2 separate regions of the Homo sapiens genome follow, and region 2 is linked to region 1. Evidence: fine-mapped expression QTL. Tissue or cell type: whole blood. Region 1 holds a variant in brackets; the other region holds the start of a gene. All regions are shown on one strand. Distances are from middle to middle.

The links. PIP is the estimated chance that this variant, and not a neighbour inherited with it, causes the effect.
Region 2: it holds the start of PRR13, and the variant in region 1 is fine-mapped to the expression of PRR13 in whole blood (TOPMed, PIP above 0.99).

Annotation. Positions count from the first base shown.
Region 1 is chr12:53,469,503-53,472,002 of GRCh38, reverse strand. It overlaps PCBP2 (poly(rC) binding protein 2), which reads right to left. Exons shown (of 15, transcript NM_031989.5): 14 at 196-365. Among named protein-coding and RNA genes, the nearest start is that of PCBP2-OT1, 6.3 kb to the right of the region's middle. The variant G/C (reference allele first, on the strand shown) is at 1,334.
Region 2 is chr12:53,440,412-53,443,037 of GRCh38, reverse strand. It overlaps PRR13 (proline rich 13), which reads right to left and starts at 1,304. Exons shown (of 4, transcript NM_018457.4): 1 at 1,246-1,304; 2 at 305-343. The coding sequence starts at 323. RefSeq lists a silencer at 1,307-1,456 and enhancers at 1,747-1,836, 1,567-2,332.

The DNA.
Region 1 (2,500 bases):
CAACCCCTTGAAAACTTACTGCAGTTTACTTTTTCTGCTACACTCTAAGAAAGTAGAGCTAGCAAAAAAAAAAAAAAACCTTTTGGCCATCTTTACCCATCGCCCATGTAATCCCATATTTAATACACTGCAGCTCTCCCCAACACACACATTACTGTGTTGGCATAAATAAGACAAAAGGTAGAGCAATCTTACCTGACATTGATTAGATATTGAGCCAGGCTAATGCTGGCAGCAGATCCAGTGATGGTAACCTGCCTATCAGTAGATCCTTCCACTGGGTTCGCAATTTTGATCTGCGCCCCAGACATCTGACGGATCTCATTGATTTTGGCGCCTTGACGCCCGATTATGCAGCCAATCAACTTAAGGGAGAAAGAAAAACAAGGCACACCGAATTAGAGTTGCATGGCTAGGTCTAAGAATCCCACCCCCCCACCCCAAATCCTACGACTGTGGCCAGGCTGGAGTGCAGTGGCCTGATCTTGGCTCACTGTGCAACCTCAGCCTCCTGGATTTGAGCAATTCACCTGCCTCAGCAGGACTACAGGCGCATGCCACCATGCCCAGCCAATTTTTGTATTTTTAGTAGAGACGGGGTTTCACCATGTTGGCCAGGATGGTCTCAATCTCTTGACCTTGTGATCCACCCACCTTGGCCTCCCAAAGTGCTGGGATTACAGGTATAAGCCACCGAACCTGGCCCTTTAAAAAAAAAAAAAAAAACCGAGGGTCTCGCTATGTTGCTCAGGCTAGTCTCAAACTCCTTGGTTTAAGCCATTTTCGAATCTCAGCCTCTGTATCTCTGTGCTCCCTGTAACCTGGGATTACAGGTGTATACCGCCATGCCCAATTTCATCCTACACCCTTTACTCATACACTTTTGATCAAAAAACTCAACTCTTGACCCATTTTTCAGTCTGACCACCCATGGTGAGTGACAGCCAGTTCTGAGCCAACTCAGAACTGTCTTTTAGGTCCAAGAGACATAATACTCTTAGGTCCAAGTATTAGCTCTTCATTATTTCTGTCCTCAGAATATTACTTCCAAAGACAAAGCAGAGCCAAAACAAAAATAAATTTAGACAGCTAGAAATAGATAAAGGTAGAAATACATTCTGTTTCTGGCAGCAAATATGCTTAAAGTCATCCTGCCATGATTACCACCCTCCTATACCGACAAGAATTCTGGCCAATTCCTAAGGTGTTTTTGCCTTGGGAAAAGGTGGAAAAAAAAAAAAAAAAACTGGTTAACATTTGCACTAATACTGTAAAAAATATGACCCTGGACAGCACAGATCTGATGTTCATGAACCACTACACTATGGTGGGG[G/C]ACCGTGGCTCATGCCTGTAGGCTGAGGCAGGCCAATCACTTGCGTTCAGGAGTTTCATGGCGAAACTCTTGTCTTTACAAAAAAAATACAAAAAAAGTTAGCCAGGGATAGTGGCATGCACCTGTGGTCCCAGCTACTCAGGAGGCTGAGATGGGAGGATCTCTTAAGCCTGGAAGTTCAAGGCTGCAGTGAGCCACGATCATGCCTCTCTGCTCCAGCCTGGGCAACAGAGGGAGACCCTTTGTCAAAAAAAAAAGCCACTACACTTTTTTTTTTTTTTTTTTTTTTTTGAGAGACGGAGTCTTGGTCTGTTGCCCAGGCTGGAGTGCAGTGGCACGATCTTGGCTCACTGCAACCTCCGCCTCCCAGGTTCAGGGGATTCTCCTGCCTCAGCCTTCTGAGTAATGGGATTACAGGTGCGGGCCAGCACACCTGGCTAATTTTTGTATTTTTAGTAGAGACAGGGTTTCACCACTATGGTCAGGCTGGTCTCCTGACCTCGTGACCCACTTGCCTCAGCCTCCCACAAGTGCTGGGATTATATGCATGAGCCACTGCACCTGGCTGAAAACCACAACATCTTCTAAAGATAAGGCTTTAGCTTCTACAAAAAAACAAAAGCAGGCTGGACGCAGTGGCTCACACCTGTAATCCCAACGCTTTGGGAGGCTGAAGGGGGGGGATCACGTAAGGTCAGGAGTTCAAGACCAGCCTGACCAACATGGAGAAACCCCATCTCTAATTAAAAAAAATACAAAAATCAGCCGGACATGGTGGCACATGCCTGTAGTCCCATCTACTCGGGAGGCTGGGGCAGGAAAATTGCTTGAACCCAGGAGACGGAGGTCACAGTGAGCCAAGCCTGGGAAACAGAGCAAGATGCCGTCTCAAAAAAAAAAAAAAAAAAAGCAGCAAATGTACAGGAATTTCTTTCCTTTTTTGAAATGGAGTTTCGCTCTTGTTGCCCAGGCTGGAGTGCGATGGCGCGATCTCGGCTCACCACAACCTCCGCCTCCCGGGTTTCAAGCAATTCTCCTACCTTAGCCTCCCAAATAGCTGGGATTACAGAGATGCAACACCATGCCAGGCTTTTTGCTTTTTTTGTATTTTTAGTAGAGATGGGTTCCTCCATGGTAGTCAGGCTGGTCTCGAACTTCCAAGCTCAG
Region 2 (2,626 bases), 29 kb after region 1:
TAAAAATACAAAAAGTAGCCGGGCGTGATAGCATGCGTCTGTAATCTCAGCTACTCCAGAGGCTGAAACAGGAGAATCGCTTGAACCCAGGAGGCGGAGGTTGCAGTGAGCCTGGGCAACAGAGACTCCATCTCAAAAAATAAATAAATTAAATTAAATTAAAAAGCACTGGTCAGCTCTAGACTAAGGACTTTGCTTTTGCGGGTACAGCAGGTCGGGGGTAGGGGAGCTGATACAGAAACTTCCTGTTATAGAGCCCATCAGAAAAAGGGTTAGGGGTGGAACAGAACCCCCAAACACCTACCGGCATTGGGATTCCACATGTTTAGGTGTGTCCTCCAGCCTGAGGAGAAAGAAATGAGGCAAAAAAGATGACGGTCTAGAGGTAGGAAGTGGACTTAGCACCGGAGCCCAGCCCTAACGTCTTCCACCCCACAGTAGGCTCTCCTACCTGGAGAACTACCACAACTTCCACATAAGAAATGTCTCTTTTCTGGCTGGGCGCGGTGGCTCACGCCTGTAATCCCAGCACTTTGGGAGGCCGAGGCGGGTGGATCACGAGGTCAAGAGTTCGAGACCAGCCTGGCCAACATCGTGAAACCCCGTCTCTACTAAAAATCTAAAAATTAGCCGGGCGCGGTGGCGGGCACCTGTAATCCCAGTTATTCGGGAGGCTGAGTCAGGAAAATTGCTTGAACCCGGGAGGCAGAGGTTGCAGTGAGCCGAGACCGCGCCACTGCACTCTAGCCTGGGCGACGGAGCAAGACACCGTCTCAAAAAGAAAAGAAAAGAAAAGAAATGTCTCTTTCCACTTGTTTCTTCGCCCTCAATACCTACTTGGTTCCTAACACAGGAATCTAGTTCCCAGGGCCCCTCCACCCAGGTGGAAGCGTCTAACTCTTCGGAAGTAGGCAGTACCCGCGAGTCTCGGCCCCACCATCACTCATCTCCCTTTCCCTGGAACTGAGTACGGAGGCCTTTAACCACGCACAGAGTAAGAAAGGATCTCAAACAACTTTCTCTCTCCCTGGGGAGGACCCCACCTCAGGCTAAAAAAAGGATACGCCTCGAGGCGAAGTAAGAAGGAAGTTGCCCAAGAACCTCAAATACTTAAATATGTGGACACAGCCCCCTTCCTCCAAAAAAGAAAAAAGGCAAATGAAGATCCTAGCCCCAAGCTGCGAAGAGACTCTTGACCTAGCAAGGGGAAAAGGAAAAACCTATGGAATCCAGATACCCCATCACCTTTCCACCGCCGCCTGGGCTTGCTGCGTTCTCCTTCGCAGTCTCGGCTCTTCCTAGTCACCCAGACCCCGTGCTTCGGCACCCGCCTCTGCTACTGCCTAATTGGTAATTATGTGGCCGCTCGACTGATGATTAGACAACAAACTAATCAATCACTCTGGTCCGACTGAGGAGGAAACGGTTGCTCTAGGGGCGGAGCGGAGCCCTTTACGGCTAGGCCAGTACCGAGAAGCCGGAAATCTCCTGGGGGCGGGGCTAGGCGGAGAGCGCTGGAGGGGGCGGGGCCAGCTGCTGGGCAAAGTCCTAGAGACACCGAGAAGAAACTCTTCCCTTGCTCTCTTACCTCATGGTTCACTGGGTGCAATACCTTGTAAAATGAATACACTATGGTAAGTGTTGTAATACAGATATAGACAGAGTTCTCGGCAAGGGCAGAAGAGCTGCTGAGTCCCAGCCCCAAGCCTCAATGTTCCCGGCTCCGTCTTACACTCGCAAGGGAAGCAAACAAACATTCTTGCGGAAGATACAGAGATTTCATAATCTCTCCCAGGATTCCCTCTCTCAATTGCATAGCTCCGCCATCTGTCAAGTAGCCTAAACCAGAAACCAAGGAGGGCGTCCGTGATCCCTCTGCCTCCTTCACCTCCCTTACCCCAAATTATCAGTTTTGTCTCTCAAATATATCTGGAATCTCTCCACTTCTCTCTGTCTTCCCTGCTCCAAACCTCCCATCATCTGTCGCCTGGATTCATCTCTCCCCTGAATTGCTACAATGGCCTCCCTACAATGGCCTCCCTTTTTTTTTTTTTTTTTTTTTTTGAGACGGAGTCTCGCTCTGTCACGAGGCTGGAGTGCAGTGGTGCGACCTCGGCTCACTGCAACCTCCGCTTCCCGGGTTCAAGCGATAATCCTGCCTCAGCCTCCGAAGTAGCTGGGACTACAGACGCGGCTAATTTTTCTATTTTTTAGTAGAGATGGGATTTCACCATGTTGGCCAGGATGGTCTCGCTCTCTTGACTTCGTGATCTGCCCGCCTCGGCCTCCCAAAGTGCTGGGATTATAGGCGTGAGCCACCGTACCCAGCCTTTAAAAAAAAAAAAAAAATACAAGTGGCCGGGCGCAGTGGCTCACGCCTGTAATCCCAGCACTTTGGGAGGCCGAGGCAGGCGGATCACAAGGTCAGGAGTTCGAGACCAGCCTGGCCAATATGGTAAAACCCCGTTTCTACTAAAAATACAAAAATTAGCCGGGCGTGGTGACATGTGCCTGTAATCCCAGCCACTTGAGAGGCTGAGGCAGGAGAATCGCTTGAACCCGGGAGGTTGCAGTGAACCGAGATCACGCCATAGCACTCCAGCCTGGGCAACAGAGCGAGACTCCA